Regions from separate parts of the Homo sapiens genome. Here all the other regions are linked to region 1. Evidence: fine-mapped expression QTL. A gene starts in region 1. Each other region holds a variant in brackets. All regions are shown on one strand. Distances are between the middles of the regions.

What was found. PIP is the estimated chance that this variant, and not a neighbour inherited with it, causes the effect.
Region 2: its variant is the best candidate, but not a certain one, in a credible set for the expression of MICU3 in prefrontal cortex (BrainSeq, PIP 0.79).
Region 3: its variant is the best candidate, but not a certain one, in a credible set for the expression of MICU3 in fibroblasts (GTEx, PIP 0.75).

The regions. Positions count from the first base shown.
Region 1 is chr8:17,018,013-17,029,208 of GRCh38, forward strand. MICU3 (mitochondrial calcium uptake family member 3) reads left to right here and starts at 9,226. Exons shown (of 15, transcript NM_181723.3): 1 at 9,226-9,648. The coding sequence starts at 9,268. RefSeq lists a silencer at 9,204-9,613 and an enhancer at 9,764-9,853.
Region 2 is chr8:17,095,917-17,100,916 of GRCh38, forward strand. It overlaps MICU3 (mitochondrial calcium uptake family member 3), which reads left to right. Exons shown (of 15, transcript NM_181723.3): 9 at 2,542-2,637. Among named protein-coding and RNA genes, the nearest start is that of ZDHHC2, 58 kb to the right of the region's middle. The variant C/G (reference allele first, on the strand shown) is at 2,326.
Region 3 is chr8:17,076,193-17,081,192 of GRCh38, forward strand. MICU3 (mitochondrial calcium uptake family member 3) reads left to right here. Exons shown (of 15, transcript NM_181723.3): 4 at 1,591-1,669. Among named protein-coding and RNA genes, the nearest start is that of MICU3, 51 kb to the left of the region's middle. The variant CAT/C (reference allele first, on the strand shown) is at 2,951.

The sequences.
Region 1 (11,196 bases):
GGACACACTACCAGGCCCTACTAATTTCTTTTTTTTTTTGTAGAGACCAGGTTTCGCTATGTTTCCCAGGCTGGTCTCGAACTCCTGGGCCCAAGCGATCTCCCTGCCTCGGCCTCCCAAAGTGCTGGGATTACAGGTGTGAGCCACTTTGCCCGGCATATTGTTATTTTTATTTTTACTCTTTTTTGGAGACAGAGTGTCACTCTGCCACTCAGGCTGGAGTGCAGTGATGTGAACATAGCTCACTGGAACCTTGAACTCCTGGGTGCAAGTGATGCTTCCATAAATGCAAATTCTTAATCCTAATCTTTTTTGGCTTAGTCATATGTCCCACTCACCCTGTCCTTTTCTTATGTCAAAAGCGGTCTTCAAGAGCCTCCAAACTCAAGTGGAGATGGTGATGTTTAAATACCATATTGGTGGGCTGGAGCCAGCTTGCACTAACTCACTAGAGCTGATAGTTAAATTTTCAGGAATTTTTGAGCCAGTTATTAGAGACTTTATTAAAAATTAAATTATGTAAACTTACAATTAGATAATTATATTAAACGTAATATAATTTATATTTATTAGGTAAATATAAAATGTAATAAGCACTAAAAACATCACTTTTACTTTACCATTATATCTTTTATATGATGTAGATAGTGGAAATTCCACGTAATGTGCTACCATGCATCTCTTCCCAATCTGCAATCAGTAATGTCGTATTGGTAGCCTGAAATCACCACGGTGGGAGTATTTACGCCATGGAAATCTGAAAACACTACAAGTCAGAACTCCCCACCTCTTCTACCCCAGAACCCATTGTTAACACCTTACCAGCACATCACTGATACCTGCCCACAGGGCCTTCTAAGGGAAGTTGTTCTCCCTTTCCCAGAAACTGCATCTCCATATGACTCCACACCTTTCCTCCCAGACACAGCTGGCTGGCCTAGGAGTGAAAAACTAACAAAGGAAGAAAACGTCTATAGGCCAGACCAACCTAATGCTTTCTCTTTAGGATTTGCATTAAGATTCATAGAGATTGGTAGAATTAGTAGCCAAGTCATGCTCACAGCAGTGTGCTAGAATGAATGTCCTTGAGCTCTTATGATGTAGGTCCCTAGAGCTGACCCGGTTACCACACTTCCTGACACCTCATAGTACCACTTTTCTCTGGATTCTCTATAATTTTATCCTTAAAATGTGTCTTTTACTTGAGCTAATGCAATTGCTATTTGATTCCTTGGAAATTAATATGCCTTAAGAAAAACGGTTTTAAATTCCGTCAGTTTCTGATGATTGTAATGCAGGAACTATCTAGATGTAGGGCAGAATATCTAGGCTCAATTTCTGGTAGTATAACTCAAAGAAAATCCTTTAACCTGGCAGCCTCTCAGTTTCCTCGTCAGTCAGTAAAAATGGAACGAGTGTATATTTCAGTGGTATTTAAGCCCCAGTAGTCTACAAAGTTACTTCAGGCTCCACTGTGAGAGCTGAAAAGGAATCTTTAAATGGACAAGGTCCGGATTTCCCTCCTTTTCCACTACAGACACTCTGCTGTTATCTACTTTGTGTTTTGGGGCTTAAGAAACAAGACTTCTTTTGGCAAACAGTTTTCACTAAGCACTCCCCTCCCCACCCCACGCCCACCACCCCCCAACAAAAACTTAGAAAGATTAGAAAATTCCCAGACTGAGCTATCTCTAAATTATTTTTGGTCTTCTATAACTTTATAGGGTAAATATTAAATGTTGCCATGCATATTACAAAAACATTTGAACTTTTTTTTCAGCTGTTCTGTTCCTACTGTTGTTTGCATTATCTTCTCCTAGTAGAGCGTTTCCAAAGAACCACGGTGGACTTACAACTAACTCAACTCAGTCCCAATCTGATAGCCCAGTCTTAGCAGAGATACTGACCTACTTTTTCCTGTGATTTCTGGGCCTGGCCTGATAATTTTACTTAGCACAGTGTTCTGGACAACCAATATCAATCAACTGAAGTTGGCAGGGGATGAAACTGGTTGCCATCCCACTAAACTTCTGCAGGTATGTACACTGACTAACCTTATGCTATTCTTGATGTCTCTAATGGCTCCCTCTTTATTCTGAGCTTTCCATCTGTTCTGAAGACTGCCCTTCTATTTGTTTATCTGCTCCTGAAGCAATTTCCCCATCCAACACCTGACAGTCGGGGGTTAGAGCCAGAACCAAGGGTATGTACTGGTTGCACTAGGCCTTACGATCACATACCCACTGGCTCTGTCCATATGGACGCTTCAGAGGAGAAAATGCTGCAAGTTAAAGAAGTTAAAACACTACATTGTTTGCTTAAAATACAAAGTTCCTTTTGGTCTTTTCCTTAATAAATACGAAAAATCACTAATAGTATCTTCTTAGTAGTCTTCAAGTAGTAAAAGATGTTTATTAAAATACTCCTTGGTTAAATCTTCTCAGGCTATATCAAGCTTATATAAGCTAAACTTTTCCTTTAGTTTCCAATTCTTCAATCAATTTTATTGTTCTTAGTTGAACTCTTTTCAAGCTCTACACATTCCTTTAAAGTTGTATAGTTCATAACTGAGCAAAGTCCTCTAGTAAATAACACATTAGTATAAGAGCATTAGGAAGAAAATCTATGTTTTCTTCTATATAAACTTTTTATTGAAGTGTTACGTATATAAAAATGTTATAGAAATTATAACTGGACAGCTCTACGAATATTTATAGAGTAAATACACGTGTCATTGGCACCCATATCAAGACACAGAACTCCCAAAGCTCCTTTTTCTGCCTTCTAATCACTTCCCTGCACCCAGGGAGACCACCATCCTAATGTCTAATGTTATTTATATCTATTTGTTGTTGTTGTTGTTGTTGAGCTTTTAAAATAGAGTAATAAAGTTGGTTCTTTTGTGTCTGCCTTCTTTACCTCACTTTTGCTTTAAAATTTATCCCAGTGATTGCATGTAGTTGCAATTCAGTAATTTTCATTGCTTTATATCATTTCATTATGTGAATATGCCACATTTTTAAATAATCCAAGCCACTGTTGATGAACATATGAATAGTTTCTGGTTTGTTGCCAATTAGAAATGATGCTACTATGAATATTCCTCTATATGTCTTTTTTTTTTTTTTTTTTTTTGAGATGGAGTCTCACTCTGTCACCCAGGCTGGAGTGCAGTGGCGCGATCTCGGCTCACTGCTAGCTCCGCTTCCCGGGTTCATGCCATTCTCCTGCCTCAGCCTCCCGATTAGCTGGGACTACAGGTGCCCACCACCACAGCCAGCTAATTTTTTTGTAATTTTAGTAGAGATGGGGTTTCACCGTGTTAGCCAGGATGGTCTCGATCTCCTGACCTCGTGATCTGCCCGCCTTGGCCTCTCAAAGTGCTGGGATTACAGGCATGAGCCACCCACTGTGCCCAGCCTCCTGTATATGTCTTTTGATGGACATAAGTACTCATTTCTTTTCATGAGTCTTTCACCTAAAAAGTGAAATTAATGGGTCATAGGATATGCATATGTCCAGCTTCAGTAGACACTGCTAAGCCCAGCGGGCCCAATCAAAACTCAGGCAAAGGAACCACTGGCCACAGAGGTTTCTGGACAGGAAAACAACACCCCAAAGATCCCATAACATTTTGCTACCAAAGTGTCACTCTTGTGTAATGGGTGATCATTATGTTACTATGAGGTTATTCTGCACCAGAAGACACTTTTTAATGGACATAGAAGCTTTAATCACTATCAGACATGAAAATAGGAAAAGACAATTGAGAAAGAGCTTCCTTGTTTTCCGGTGGGAGGCTTTGCTGGTAGTAAGTCCGTCCTGCTATTGCCTGTGTCCCAAGTACATAAGAAGTCACTACCACCAAATGGAGAACAAAGACACAGGGGATTGTGGGACTTAAACAGCAGAAATTGAACAGTGAGACACCATCAACAAAGACCCTGGAAATTATGTAAAACAGACTGGATAGACGTAGTAGTCAAACCGAGGGTGTTACTGCTCTGGAAAGGTAGTTAAAAGTGTACAATTGCCAGCTTGGTTATTGTCCCCAGTGAAAGATCTAAGAACAAAAGGGGAGGTGTGGCCAGTCAATCACTGATGTTTGGCCATGGATGATGCTGCATTTTCCTCGGAGGACCAAAAGAATGGACAGAGCCGGCTGGGCACTGTGGCCCACGCCTGTAATCCCAGCACTTTGGGAGGCCGAGGCGGGCAGATCATGAGGTCAGGAGATCGAAACCATCCTAGCCAACATGGTGAAATCCCGTCTCTACTAAAAATACAAAAATTAGCTGGGCATGGTGGCGCTCGCCTGTAGTCCCAGCTACTCGGGAGGCTGAGGCAGGAGAATTGCTTGAACCTGGGAGGCGGAGGTTGCAGTGAGCCGAGATCGCGCCACTGCGCTCCAGTCTGGTGACAAAGCAAGACTCCGCCTAGAAAAAAAAAAAAATGGAGAGAGCCTTGGGGAAAACCTATGGCTTTAAGGCTCTAGTCCAGGAGGATACGGCCAAATCATAGTAACAGGATAACTTCAGTGCTAGAATCTGAAAATCACAAAATCTGTTCTTGAATCAAGCTTTCTGCATGATCATACTTTGTTGTCCACCCCCCTCCCCTTTTTTTAGAGGGTCTTGCTTTGTCACCCAGGGGCTGGAGTGCAGTGGCATGATCATAGCTCACTGCAGCCTCGAACTCCTGGGGCAAGCAATCATCCCACCTCAGCCTCCTGAGCTGCTGGGACTGCAGGCATGCACCACCACTCCTGGCTAATTTTAATTTTAATTTTTGTAGAGACAGGTTCTCACTATGTTTCTCTGGCCGGCCTTGAACTTCTGGCTTCAAATGATCCTCCTGCCTTGGCCTCCCAAAGTGCTGGGATTACAGGTGTGAGCCACTTCACCTAGCCCACACTCTATCTGTGATCCTTCTTTGCCAGTCCCTTGCTTTTTCCCTTTGGCCTCCCATCTGTGTTGATTGCATTTCCTCATTGATGTGCTGCTTGGTTTGTCAGCTTGTTTAGTGTCTGATGGGCCATTGTATTTCCTTGTCACCTAACTTGCCTTCCTATGTTGACCTCCACCTTCCCCCCTTTTCAAGACATTGCTTTTCATTTAGTAAATATAATTGAGGTCCTAATGTGTGCCAGGAACTGGGCTAGAAGATGCATACCCTGGCCTCATGTTGCTTAGAGTCAGCTTGGCTTTGCCTAATGGAAAAAGGGTGAGATACAGATCACAGTCTTTGGGAATGAGAGCTCATCAAAACAGAAAACAGACCCTCAGTGTCTTGTGTAACTTGGTTTCCATAGCCCTGGATGCTGAGGAATTGAGTTCTAGATTGCTGGTGGGTAGCACTTTGAAGAAAACAGAGCAAGAACATACCTTCCCCAACACTGTCTCCTATGTCAGTTTTGCCCTAAGGAAGACAGCATGGAAGGTGGAAGGCAATTTGAGAAAATGATGACAACTTTCCCAAGAGAGAAGAAGATGGTTGCAACCTTGCTCTCTGCTGGTAGACTTGAGTGGACCTGGGGATGGGGTGGTTCATGTGCCCTGATACAGATCTCAGATGTAACTGCTGCTCTTTTAACTAGTCAAGAATCTGGAGCTCAGAATGACCAAAATAAGGAATGCAGTATATTTTAATAGAAGTTTTGTTAAACAAGACATTCCTGCCTATTGCACTTATATTCCACTTTTTCAAACTTTTCAAAATCACTAACGTATTTGCAATTTTAAATGCAGTAGAAGGTTAAAATAATTAGATAAAGGAATGGATTTTTTTTTTTTTAAACATAGTCTTGCTCTCTCACCCAGGCTAGAGTGCAGTGGCTCAGTGATGGCTTACTGCAACCTCCTTTTCCCCGGTTCAAGCCATCCTCCTATTTCAGCCTCCCGAGTAGCTGGGACCATAAGCACGCACCACTATGCCTGGCTAATTTTTGTATTTTTTGTAGAGACGAAGTTTTGCCATATTGCCCAGGTTGGTCTCGAACTCCTGAGTGATCAACTCACCTTGGCCTCCCAAAGTGCTGGGATTACAGACGTTAGCCTGCGTGGTCCGGGGATGGAATTTTAAGTTGAAAGAATAAAACAATCTTAGGCCAATTGTAGATTTTCAGAAGAGAAATGATACATGAAAAATACCATGAAGTATCTTTCTATGGTTTACTGATACACTTGGAGCATTTTAGTTCATTAGAAAGATGGGTTCAGGGGTGATCATCTATTTCAACTCCACTATTTTAGAGACTGTGGCTTCCAAAGCATTATAATTAAGATGCAGCAAATCCAAGACTGGAGTCCAGATTTCTTCACTTCTAATTTATTACTTATTCACTGAGGTATATGCTTTCCTGGAAAACCCTTTTTGGCTTAATCCCCATTGTTTGAAACATTTTTATTGTTTCAGAACATTTCTTTTTATTTAGACCATAGTGAACGATAAGTGGATATTTCTTTCAAGGTGTGGGCTCTCACTGTGGAGTAGGGGCATTTTGGGGGTTATTCTTAATGCTCAGTAGAATTGACATAAAAGATAAGGGATACTGGGTTGACTCTATATTGATCCAACAATATTACCTGAAATTTCAAAAAAAAAAGGTTCCAAATTCCTAATATCATATTTTCTTAAAATTTTTCCTCTGGGAATTAAACTCAGAAAAATATCCACATAACAAGGGAATTTGGTTATTTTTGTGTAGCTATAGTTACAGAGCATCAAACGTGGGAAGAAAACAGTAACTATTCTTAAGGAAATTTCACCTTTAGAGGGAAAGTACTGTTGAAAATTATTAGTAAAGCTGTTTTTGCACGTGAGAGGTATTTTATCCAAAGTTCTCTGACTGATCTACAAACATAAACTTAGCCCTTCTCACAGCAGTACTTAGCTTCTAACCAGATAAATTGTTTGCAGGAGCTCTATCAAATTTAGAAAACTATAGAGAAACTACATAGAAATCTATACGTATGTGTCTGTATTTGTCATCTTAGATGAAGGATGTCATTTTCCTCATCTGTAATGTGATGTTATTGTATTACCTCCCTAATCTTCTTTAGAACTACTTAGCTTTTAACATGCAACTAGTAAAAATTGATCAGTTTGTCCAAGAATTCTGGCATTAGACTATAATAAGAATTTATGAGAAAATCAGGAAATCATGTTCAGTTCAAAGTAAACAGTGTCAGAACTATTATTATAATTTTTTTTTTTTGAGACAGAGTTTCGCTCTGTCACCCACGCTGGAGTGCAGCGGCACAGTCTCGGCTCACTGAAACCTCCACCTCCCGGGTTCAAACAGTTCTCCTGTCCCAGGCTCCTGAGTAGTTGGGACTACAGGCGCATGCCACCACACCTGGCTTTTTTTTTTTTAAGTTTTTTGTATTTTTAGTAGAGATGGGGTTTCACCGTGTTAGCCAGGATGGGCTCTATCTCCTGACCTCATGATCCACCCGCCTCGGCCTCCCAAAGTGCTGGGATTACAAGTGTGAGCCACCACGCCCGGCCAATATGATTATTATATTATATATAATATATATAATTATTACCCAGAAGATAATTTATTTGGGGAAACTACCATTTCACAGAATATAGAGAAAGCATAAATTGAGGAAAATTTGGTGATAAAGCAAGACGCTATCAGAGTCTTCCTTAGGCATTGACTCCATAAAACCCACAGGCTGAAACTGAAGAAAACTCAGAGACAGGTTTTAAAATACACAAAATTTGTTCATCTGCTACAGAAGATTTTTCTTCTTACCGCTTTTAGCAGCTTTAAGAAAGCAAAATGCCATTAACCTCTATTAAAATAAGAGGTAACAGGGTGTACCTGATGTGCTATTTACATGCAAGGTGTTAGGAATAGAAATTGCAGGACCTCCAGGAGTTCGAGGCCAGCCAGGCCAAGATGGTGAGACCCCCATCTCTACTAAAAACACAAAAATTAGCCAGGCACGGTGGCGGGTGCCTGTAATCCCAGCTACTCGGGAGGCTGAGGCAGGAGAATCGCTTGAACCAGGGAGACGGACGTTGCAGTGAGCCGAGAATGTGCCACTGCACTCTAGCCTGGGCAACAGAGCAAGACTCCGTCTCAAAAAAAGAAAAAAAAAAGGGAAGAAATTGTAGGACCTGAGCCAGAAAAAACTCATTTGGTCGTCTCTGAAAGCCTTTAGTCTTTACAAGAATTGCCAGAATCAACTGATGGTGTATTCTCTTGTCACTGCAGCCCAATTGAGACCACTGTATTTAGTTGTCTGTCCCCTTAGATCCACAATATTTTAGGGACTCCTGGCACCATTCCATAGTAGGAAGAAAAAGCTAACATAATTCAAGTTACCAAAACTGGGGTCTGGGGAGAGAAACTGATAGGAACTTCATCTACACTTTCTCATAAAAACTGATACTGATAACATAGCAAACAAAAAGTACAGTAAAAACAAAAAGATGACACAATACGCTTCTCATTTATTTTATATTTATACAAACAGCGCTTCCCTGAAAAATCAGGGTATCGTTCAAGATTTTATCTTTATTCACAGAAGTTTTAAAATTTTTAACTTTTATATGCACAAGACAGTTCTGATTTGTTGAATTAAGTGACCGCGGGTGTGCTAATGCTTCTAAAAAACAGCATTAGCCTTCTCCCATCAAAAGTCCGGAAGCTGCCCTTCAGTCGTCAAAGTGTTTGCCTTAATTTGCAATCGTTATGACTTGAGCCAAATGCTTATACCTCATTTGTGTCGTATATGTGAAGATACAATTGCAAATCGTTCACGACCTTGAGTCAAGACCTTGAGTTTCCTGAGGTCAGGAGACCGTTAGGGAATGTGAGTGTCCCAGACGGGCGCTGAGCCCAGCTCGGAGACCCACCCCGCCCGTAGCAGCGGCGCGGGCCCCAGAGAGCCCCGCACTCGGCCGCGCCTCAGTTACGCTGACTCGGCTGTGCCCGCAGTGTCGCGCTGTCGCGTAGCCAGGTGTCGCCGGGCTGGCGCGGTTATTTATGACTGCGTGGTTGGGCTGGGGGTTCGGGGCCGGGGAGCAGCCGGGATCCGCCGCCTCTTCCATGATCTTCCCGGGCCGAACCACGGGACCGCTACGCTGAAGGTGGCGTCGCGGGTCCCCGGGGCCGCGCGAGTGTAGGGGTCGCTCTCGGCCGGCCGCGAAGCTCGCGGCACCGACTTCTCGCGAGATTTCGGCGACCCCCCCCCCCGCCCCCGCCCCTCCGTTCTCTGCCCCCTCCCAGCTCTGGTGTGGGCGGCCTCCGCTATGGCTGCGCTGCGAAGGCTCTTGTGGCCGCCACCCCGGGTGTCTCCTCCACTCTGCGCTCACCAGCCCCTCCTTGGGCCGTGGGGGCGGCCTGCGGTGACCACCCTGGGCCTTCCTGGCCGGCCCTTCTCCTCCCGAGAGGATGAGGAGAGGGCTGTGGCGGAGGCGGCATGGAGGCGGCGGCGGCGCTGGGGGGAGCTGAGCGTGGCGGCGGCGGCCGGCGGGGGGCTGGTCGGCCTGGTATGCTACCAGCTGTACGGGGACCCCAGGGCCGGCTCGCCGGCGACCGGGCGACCCTCAAAGAGCGCGGCCACGGAGCCCGAGGACCCGCCCCGCGGCCGGGGGATGCTGCCCATCCCAGTGGCGGCTGCCAAGGAGACGGTGAGTGCGCGAGCGCGCGTCACACCTGCGCGGGGGATGTGACCTTCGTGCCGGGTACGCAGGACCCTGGAGGCTGTGGGGACGGTGCAAGCGCTGTGGCCGCGGGTGAGGAACTTCCCGTGAGCGAGGCTGACACCTAGGCCGGACAGCCTAGGATCCGGTCACCCACGTATTGGGAAGACCAGTGATGCTGTCCCTGATGCATCAGGACCTTAAAGGTGGCTGCAGCTACCAAGTATCAATCCAAACCCAAAACCAACACCCCTCCCCCTCTTACAAAAAAAGATTCAGAAATGAAGGCCATGACAGGCAGAAAGTGGACCGCTGTAGGTGTGGGAAAAAGGAACTCCTAGATTGCGCGGGGCGACAGCTAATGACCCAGGAGGTCTGTTGCATTAGAATGAGTTTCGAAGCAGCGGTCTGAGATCTCAAAAGCCACTACTTTAGCATATGAGAATTTATTAGTCCCAAGAAAGGAAATGCTAAACCTGCATGCTAACGCCCTTATCATACCCAGGGAATGTTGATGTTACCAGGTCTGAAAAGAAATAAAAAATTGTTCAAAAAGAGACATAAGTATTTCTCTCTTTTTCCTTCCCCCACTAAAGCCAGAATCCCGTTAGTAGGTAACGATAAAACACAAAATGGATAGGATAGCAAATGTAGGAGGCTGTGAATGACACAAACTCCTACAGAAGAAAGTCACGTGAAAATGTTCAACTGTCATTATGTAGTTAATAATACAAGGTAAAGATGTGTGAAAGGCAACAGTGAGTAAAGGAGCGTGATTTTTTTTGTCGCATCAGTATATTTAATAGTCATGTAAATGACTAGGAAAATTAAGGAGATTTTCCTTGCAAGGCTCGAAGAATGTGAACGGCGTAGATGAAAATAATTTAGAAAACAGAGAGCTATGCTGTTTCTAATGCAATTTTTATAGGCTTTGTTCTTAATACGCAGTGGTGATCTGATGTAAGTGCATCATTTCCTTTGGTGGAGGTTGTCAATGCAATTAGGTTACGGAATCTGCTTTATGGACTATCTAGCAGCAGATCACAAGCACATAACATAAAGTCCTTTTACACATGAATATTCAAAATACTAGGAAATACCCTCAAATCTCCACCCCCTCCCCCTTCACAAATACACATCCACTTTTGTGGCTTGGCAAGGAGCATAGCGTTTTTCATGATGGCAGAACTTTTAATTAACCATAGTTGGTCTAGGAACAGATCAGCAAGGTAGGGAATTCAAGTAGTATTTTCTTTTCTTTCTTAAAATTAATTTTACTTTTACAGTTGAGAGATGTTATCTTGCAGTTTTTAAAAAGACCACGTTCAGAAAGCTAGAACTTTGGCTCCACGACTTGCTACTTGTGTCATTATGGAGAAATTACTTGACCTGTCAATGCCTGTTTCCTCACCTGTGAAATGAGGCTAATAGTCTCCTGGGGTGTTATGAGAGTTAAATGAGTTAACACAGTATATTTAAAACAATGGTACTACTAAAGAACATTAAATAAATTTATTTTTTGGCTGAGCGTGGTGG
Region 2 (5,000 bases), 75 kb after region 1:
ATCAATAACAGACTCTGAACTTAAGCAAAAAATGTGTCACACTTACAGGGCACACTACATGCAGGACATCATTTTGGCTGTGCCTTTCACTTGTGAAGTTCTGGGCTACCTAACTGTATATTCTTTTACCTCTTTTAATGAAGGTCTACACATTTTACATGACATCTGGTAAAGGGGCCAGTAGCTCAGATAGCAAACAAAGATAACCGAGAAAACTTCAGGAAGTCTTTGCGTATTGGTCTACTATTTACATATCAAAGCATCATAGTTGTCTGTTTCACAGCCATCAAAGTGTCCAGTTACACCTGGGCATTTTTCTCTGTCAGCCTTTCCTTACTTAGCCTGTATGCATAGATATGTTCTGGTTTTATATTTGCTTTGCATTTCTTGCTATTAAAATCTAGTCTGACTTTCATTGCTACTTTAAGCTTATGTAAAATATCCTTACTGTATTATATTTTCGTGGTGATAAAACTTCCTACTAGTTTGCATATTCTGAGAATGTGCTCTTAACTTCATCGTTCAAATTGTTTAAAACATTTAAAACTGTCTCCAGAACAGTTACATATATAGGAATCAGTGAGTGTGCCAGGCATATCACTGATTTATTAGCTGTTTTTTCCTGCAGCAGTAGTTGCTGTAAGGATGTTGTTTCTGCCCTCAGAAACTTTATAATTATTTAAAAGATGATGTAAGATAAAACAAAAACAAATATATCCAGTTACAGCAATTCAGTAGTATATCCTAGCATTGTTTAATCCCTGAGGCTAAATGATGAACCAGAAAGCTTTCTGCAGCAGGACACTTGTAAAACTGTTACGTTCTAAATAAGATTTTTTAAATTTGAAAAGTTGTATATTATCCTAATAGATAAATACACATTTTCAAAATATTTTCAAATATGGCAAAGCAAGAAGAAAATTTAAAATATCCTAACCCCAACATTTGGAAATAATTAATATATTTACTTCTTTTTCTTGTCCACAAAATACATGGTTGGTTAAACTAATTTTAGTTCTTAATACGTTCTAAATATATTTGTGTGTGTGTGTGTGTGTGTGTGTGTGTGTGTGTGTGTGTGATTGTGGACAGTGTTTGGAAGTAAGGATGAGGCATGGCTTCACAAAGTGAATCATTCCTGCTACTCTTCTAACAGTAGTGCACAGTAAGCCTTATTTTCTAGTTTGGTGGGTTTAACAATCCCTTTCTTTATCACATATTAACCTTCTGAGTTGAACTTTTAAAACGCATCCACATTCAAAATATGTGAATAATATTTTCAGATCAATCATTTGATCTAGCTAGTATTTATTGAGGTTATTCCATATCTATATAAAATAAAATGAACTGTATTAGTTCTATATTTAGCTAGTCTTCCCTGTTTAGTTTATAACTGCTTAGTTAAAGCTTATATTATTATAAAGGGAGTGATGCAGATTCTCTGTCAATTTGCTACATTTATAGTTATGGTAATATTTATGTCTGTGTTATGTAAATGGTTCCTGCTAAATAATACTTTATTTACATTTTATTAAGATTTTATTAAAATATAGGCAGTGGGCAGTGTTTCTAGTTAGTAATAGTGAATTGAAACTTAGAGGACCTTTGAAATAATTCCTAGATGCATATAATTTTATTAGGAGCACTGGACTTTTAAAGATTAAGGCAAAATGAAAGAAAGAAAAGTTCTGTTTTCATCCAGCCACTCTTGAGTACACCATGCAGCATTTCATCTCACATTAACCAAAAGACCACCTGAGAACCTGTGAAATCTTCCCTGATAAATCCTGACAGAAACTGGGTTTAATTATTTTTGTTTATGGGGATCCAAGTTAGGCTTGCAGTTTGACATCTTCCTAGAGTGATTAGACTACACTTTTTAATCTACACTTCCTGATATCTCCTTCAGACTACCCTGTTCTCAGAATTTAGTATCCTGTCCTTGTAATAAATAATAAGTAGTACCGTAACCATTCACAATAGAAACACCTGCCAAATCTCAAGTAGTTTTGAGTGCTTTGACTTAAAACAGGTCTATTTCTTTTTGACAAGTTTGGGATGAATTTAAACTTTGTTTCTGTAAAGTATAGATAAAGTTATTTTGAGTCTTTGATACACTAGCAAGATAAATGATAGCCAGCAATAATGTATCTTTTAATAGGTTGCTACAAAGTTACCAAAATTTTTCCCAAACAAATTTACTTCACACAAGGTGTGAATAGAATTTTTTTTCACCCTTTCTTAGAAGTTACACACGTTTCAGTAGAGGGGCAGAAGGAGAGATCGGAGAATTTGATTCTTTTCGACAAAGCTACATTGTACTTA[C/G]AAATAGTGGTTATATACCATTACACCTTTGAAAGTATGTGAGTTACCAGCAGTGTAATACAATACTGTGGTGCACAGCAGAAAACAAAACAAACAAACAAAAAAAGGTAAGCTAATGTGTTTCCTTTTCAAGGTTGGTTAGATTTAAAGTGTATAAATTATCATTCTTTGTAACTATTCTTTAGATTTCAGTTGTGCTTCTTAAAACTTCTACAGGTACTTAAAACAGATGCTGAGGAACTTGTCTCCAGAAGCTATTGGGATACACTGAGACGTAACACAAGCCAAGCACTGTTTTCAGACCTCGCAGAGGTATAATTAAACCTCAACAAGGTCCTTGTACTATTTGCCATCTTGTTAATCTAGTCGTCATTTCATTTTAGTCACAGTGATGAAACCCAACATGTATGTTACATTTTCCATTGTTTTAGTACAGCAAAAATTACTATATATAAACTGTGTATTTGAATACATCAGCTTTGACAGTTGAACTTAATTAAAAGGAAATGGCATTTTTTTTAACTTAAGGATCACTTTCTAGAAATTAGAATATATATATTTTAAAGTTTCACTGAATCTTTTAAGCTTACAATTTACCATGTTACATGAAATGCTGAAATGTTTCCCCCAGTAAAAGATACCTGACTCTTCAGAGTTATGTTAGATTTAAACAAATTTCCTAGTATTGATAGTGAGTGGCTTACCAAGGGCCTGGGGTATGGGAGTTTGAGAAGGTATGGTAGGAACAGCCAGTCAAGGAAGGGAGGAATATTTTACCTTGACATTAAGATTGCCAGTGCATAGTGAAAATAAAAAGCAGACCGACCTTATTTCAGTTCTATTACTGTTTATGAATTTGTTACAGATCTGCATCGTACTGCTGCATCGGAGTGGGCTGCTTCCATTATCCCATTCTTACACCACTGTCAATAGAGATTTCTAGTTTCTCAAGATGGGCCATATCTTAGAAAAACTGTTTTGTGTTTCTTATTAAGAATTTTTCCTAAGAACTTTATTAGAGGCAGCTAGCGGTCTTACCAGAAAAGACTTTTCAATAAATACTGAGATTTGTTTTTCATTATCTCTTTCTCTTTACAGTGGGCTTCTCATTTCTTTTTCTAAACTTTAAATTTAACTTTTAGAAGTTACACCTGAAAATATCTGGAGAAGTAAACTGGAATCAGTTGTGACTTCTGTTATCCATATATACAATGTTACTCTATTGACATATCTAGACTAGGGCAAACACTTGAAAATGTTAATTTTGTCGCCCTTGCTCAGTTTTAAAGTCCCAAAGCAATTAAAGTATTTTGTCCTATGTTTAATATGTCTGTGATATATAAATGTGATGTAATTATGACCAACAATTACCTTTTAAAATTACCTTTTCAATATGAGCCATGATTAGGTATGAAGTGGCAGATGTTCCCTTTACAGATATTTTAGAAGCACTTTATTTTGTAATCATTATGTAGGCACATTGTAGTAGTCAGTGCTTAAAAATAAGAGCAACTGGGACTCTTAGAGTGCATACAAGTCAACTGTGTCCTAGTTTCCATGCTTCAAATCAACAGTCATATCATTGTTGTCTCTCCCCATACTAGAGTATCCACCTTCCAGCCTCCAACTATCTTCATCCCATTTAACTCTGGTAGACATTCTCAGTTAGACAAAATCTGCTAATCAGATGTTGAATTTAATTTAAATCTTGGGAAGTTTAATATCAGAAAACCAGTCAGTTCCTGTGTACTCAGAGAATTATATGATTTCTGTAAGATCTTTGGAAAAGGTATATGGTTCTGTTGTAGATAGACTGGAGGAGCTGTGGGCTTTTACAGCTTCCCAGAGCTAATTAATTCTGCACACCTCTTCCCAACTCAACATTCTGTGACACCCCCTTTGTTACTTGAAAGTGGCCGTGATAGGAGTATGAATACCACAGAAACTGGCCAACATTACAAATCAGCCTTTTTTTTTTTTCCCGGACAACTCAGTTTGCCAGCACACTATTGGCTGTAATTAATCCACACTCTGATCCAAAGCTGCTAAATTAATGAATGAATTGAATCAAATTTCATGAAAGTAAATCTGATGGAGACAATCAAGAAAGGAAAAAGAGGAAAAGAAAAGAAAACTTATATCGTGTTCCAGAGTAAAATAATTACTTGGGGTTTATCTGTTACTACCCTCCCACATTAGAATAATAATTGAGAATTAACTACAGTTCAGTTACAACTAATTATATAAATCCTTATAGGTTACTGTGAATACCAGCGGAACACAGAATTGTTTATAGTATTAGTATTTCAGGATTCAAATTGGTTCAGAAAGAAGGCTTGGAAATCTATTTGTTATATGTATTTCTTTATTATATATTTAATATGTAATTATTGAGATAAAATCTGTTTATTATAGGGAAATTGGGTTATTAGCCCCTCATATTCTAGTCTGGAGCTGTTTCTAACCATAGATTTTTAAAATTACAGTAAAACTCCGTGTCTCCAATTACTGTGAAACCATATAATGAAAATTTGAATATCAGAGCTAAGACTACTTTCTAACCAAAATCATATATAATAAATTCTTAGTGCAGTATGATGAGTATATTGTGCAACTGTTGAATACAGTCTGTCAGTGTCAAAATTATAAACACTGTTTTGAGTTCTACAGATGAA
Region 3 (5,000 bases), 55 kb after region 1:
AATTGTTTGTCTGTTTGTTTGTTTGTGAAATGGGGTTTTGCCATGTTGCCCAGGCTGGTCTAAAACTCTTGGATTCAAGGGATCTACCCACCTCAGCCTCCCAAAGTGCTGAGATTATAGGCCTGAGCCACTGAGTCCCACCCAGAATGTTTTATTTAATCTCTCAATCTAACAAAAATATTTGAGTTTACTGTTGTCTAAACAATAAACATCCCAGTTTCTCATTACAATTCGGACCTGAATTATTCTGTGCCATTCCTATTCTATAATCAGATGCACTGATTATCTGCTGGCATCTTTTACCTGCAGTGCAGATACAGAAACATGAAAAACACAAACACAAGAATCCACATATGGGCTTCAAGGTGTCCATAAATCCCCTAAAAATGCTGTTCCTGCCTTTGACATACCAAGAATTTTTCTTCCTGCTAGCTCAGCTTTGCAGTTAAACAAAAATGATTTATAAATGTCAGAAAGCATTTTTAGGTACAGCTGCGTCAGAAATGGTTTGTCTGAAATGCCTTCCAAACTTCAATGTGTGTAAAAATTAGAAGATGTTGTTAAAAATGCAGGTTGTGGTTCAGTAGGTCTGGGATGGGCACTGAGATTCTGCATTTCGCACAAGCTCTCAGGTGATGCTTAAACTATTGGGGAGCCACATGCTCTGAGGAGTGGGTGTCAGATCTGAAAATAGAAGTGGGTTCTGTGTTTGTCTAATGTGTTTCTAAGCAGACTAACTTTGTTGTTTCAAATTATTTCAAGTTATCTCACCGTCTTTTAATCATTTTTCTTCACAATTAATCAAATTATAGTTTTCACTTAGTCGTTTTTAACAGACTATACACAATAAATTCAAAATTGATTTAGCATATGAGTAATGATTCAAATGTCTAAATTCTCCAGTAGTTTCCGAGCAGCAGTGATAGTTTGAGTTTTTTAAAAAAGAAAAAGCTAAGCAGCAGTTGAAGTCTGTGTTCTTTAATATTTAAGTTAAAATTAGAAACAAATTGAAACAGTGACCACAATAACTCAGTACCCTTGTCTTTCTGCTTCATCCATTGTTATCATTCTCTAAGTCACTAACCGTTAAAATACTCTTCATTCCTTTCTAACATAATTCTTTGTTCATTTACTTCCTCTACACAAAGTTCTCTAATTCCAAATGTGTTACAAAGAAGAGACATTACGTGAAGCCGGGTGATGTGACCATCTCCGACCTTGATATGGAAATCCATGTTTTTCCATGATTTTCCTAAAACGATTCCTTTATAACTGGCTCCAGGACTTAAACTCACTGTTTTATCTTGATTTGGTTGTCTTATGTATAACCTCCCGTTATTCAACTTATCTGAAATTTTAGTTAGCTCTAATTAAATTTAATGTAGCCTCTTCATCATTTATTTTATGTTTGAACTGTGGGCAAATACTGGGTTGTGTGCTTGAATGAACCACAGGCATAACATAGGATAAATAATGCCATGTTTCAGGTCTTTTAAGTGGAGAATTTGGCATGGACATTTAAACATGTTTTTGATCTATTTTATTAGTAAGTTGTTTACCAATTCATCAGTAGTATAACTTCTGTCATAGGAATTAAATCAAATGCTCGCAGAAACACCACCAGTTTGGAAAGGCTCATCGAAGCTATTTCGAAATCTTAAAGAAAAAGGTGAGTTAACCTTAGTACTTGTTCTTTTTTTAAACTATATTATGTATACTATTTATATATGCATATTTTCCCATACCTAAAATAATTTTTAAATTACATCTATGTGTATGCATAGAGAAAAAACTGAAGAAGAAAACAGCAAAATATTAACATTTCTGGGTATTAATGTTGCTCTTGGGTAATTCCACCCTTCATTAAGGGTGGTTTTCATGTTATTGTTTATATATTATTTGTATCTTCCAAATTTTTTTATATCAGATTGGACTTACATAGTTTAAAAAATTGTTCTTCAACCATATCAAAAAGTATATTTTATATTTACCCAAAGAAAACATTTCACAAAAATACTAGATCTTCAAAGGTCTATTTTTCTTCCTTCCATTTTGCTCTGAGTGAATTATAGATGCTCCTAAACTAATTAACAGGAAAAATTTAGTGGATGTGTCCTTTGACAGCCTAATTTGGACATGTTTCCTTTAAAGGCCAACACTTACTGCAAATATACCTGTTTCAACTTACTCTATTATCAATATCAATATTAGCTTAATTCATTAATTTAAACATTTCCTGGCAATCAAATTATATGGCTTTTATTGTAATTTTCTTTTACAGGGTACCTTTTTACACATTTGTAGAAAAAATTTATTAATCTTTTTAATCTTAAAAAGTAATATTTCTTGGAAATGTATTTTTTGTATCCTCAAATACAGGAATATGCAAAATAAAAATGTTAAAGAAATTACATAAGCAGTTATATTTTCCCTTTTCATCAATTTTAACCAATATTGGCTTGAAAATAATGTACTTCAGCCTGAAGACAAATACTTTGAAGGAGTAGTTATAATTCATATATTTTATTTAAGTAGAATTAGAAAGTTCATATTGCTTCCACGTGGTTTACATAGAATCTGAAAGGAAGAGACACCATATCTTTTATTGTAGGTGTTTCATAAGTAAGATTTTTAAATCTTCAAGAAACCTAGGCCAAAGTGTCTTAAAAAAAATCTTAGAAATTTTTTTCCTAGATGTTGTCTTAAAGATTGCCATTCAGATCTTAGGGTGAGATAATAGGATGAGGAAAATTCAAAGCTCATAAGGATCAAGTAAGTATGGTGAATTTCAAACATTTTTCTTAATATACCTCATGGGAAAATACAAATTGGATCAAATATAATCTGAGAAAAATAATGCATAGAAGAAAGAACCTTTTTTAAGTTAAGGGGAGGGTTTAATCTGGAAGTCCTAGGTTTAGGCATATCCTAATCCTTCTCATGTTATACA[CAT/C]GTTTGCATTTTTTTCCCCAGGGGATAGAATCTATGCTGCACCACTATGACGGAAATACTCTGTTTCTATGCTGTCTCTTATGGTAGCTACTAGCCGCATATGGCTGTTGAGCACTTGAAATGTGTCTAGCGTAACTGAGGAACTTATTTTTAGTTGTATTTGATTTTAAGTATTTTAAATTTAAATAGCTACACCCTGTAGTACAATGCGTATCTGTATCATATTAATTAGATCATCAGGGTGATGCATGATCCCAGAAAGTTTTAGAATCATTAGGTTAGGTAAAATAGAGAAGTTAGAAGAGCCTTGCTTTTTTTAAATAGCGATTAAGTGGCAGAGAAATTTTAAGACTAAATCTTTAGAGCTATTGAAGACTAATTTTATTTTTATTTTTGTTTTATTTTATTTATTTATTGAGTCAGGGTCTCATTTTGTCACCCAGGCGGGAGTGCAGTGGTGCCATCATGGCTCATTGCAGCCTTGACCTCCTGGGCTTAAGCGATTCTTCCCCCTCATTTTTTGAGTTTTTGTAGAGACAAAGTCTCACTTTGTTGCCCAGGCTGGTTTTGAACTTCTGGACTCAAACGGTCCTCTTGCCTCGGCCTCCCAAAAGTGCTGAGATTATAGGTGTGAGCCACCATGCCTGGCTAAAGACTAATTTTAAAATTGTAAGTTTATCTACTTAAAATATTACCTCGAGAGAAAATGTTATGCATTTAAATAATAAAAAAATTGATATGCATTCATGAAAACATGTATTGTAGAGACTTAATTATAACAGCCAACTGCAATGTATTGTGTATAGGAATTAAACCATGTAATGCTTTTAAGGAACTTCCCTTAAAATTTGTTTTGATTGAATTTTCGAAAGAAACCTAGTTGGCATCTTTCTTATCCTCTGTTTCTAAAGATCACACCATTACTATATGCCTAGCTTTTTTTTTTGTATTTTTTGATCCTGCACGCCATAAATAAATTGAAGAGTTAGTTTTATAGTATTCTGTTTGTATAATTGGAAAGCATTAAAAATATACCGTTCATCTTCAGTAGTATTTTCTCTTTTCCTTGACCATTTTTATTAAATTATAATATATCATGGGTTTCACTTCATTTTTCTTCCCTGTGGTTTAAGCCACTTCAATCACCATGTGATCCTACAGACAAACGCCTACCATGATATTCATGGTCTGGACACTCACTATTAAGTAGTCCTTTCCTTGAGGGAAATCTTGAGTTAACTATCAAATAAAAGATGCATAACAGTTATTAAAGTTCTTTATACCAACCAACATCTCTTGTGTATTCTACCAGGTCAACTAGAACAACAGTTAGTGAGATGGGATTATGGAGACAGCATGCCCATTTCCCATCCCATTTCCTTTTCTCGCCCCTTCTTTTATGCTCTTCTTTCATTTTTTGAGGGATCCCTACAGACTCTTAAGTATTGTATCTTTATATACATTGACCATTCCAGAATCTTTCTCCCATAACATTCATGGCAATCAACCAGAACTATCTGTCTATAGGTCACAATATTCTAGTATAAACAAAAGAAGGGAATGAATGCTTTCAGGGCCTCCTGGCTAGTGCCCTTCATGTCTCTGACAAACTGCCTGACAGTGACTCCTCTTCTCTTTGTTCTGTAACAAAGAAGACAGCCTCAAAGAACATCAGATAAAATGGAGTTTTAAAGTTCACAATCTGGTTATTTTAAGGATTTTTATACCCTTTTACCAAGCGTCAGAACTATCTGATATCTAAATAAGTATTGTAGATACAGATTACTGATGTCAATCTTCTCAGTATCTACTTGGAAGGTCAGTTGAAGCACTAAATCTAGTTTTGGGTTTTGTATTCCAAAAGCAAGAATTCAAGTAACAGAATGCACTTTTTTATTTACTTCAAAAGCACTCCTTTTGAAATTTGCAAGTATGGAGTTACTGAGAACTCAGGATGCGATGTACAGAAAGTATAAGCCATTTAATTACAATAAAAACTCCTCAGGGTACATTTAATAGAAGCATTGAAGATAATTTGAAAGCAGAAA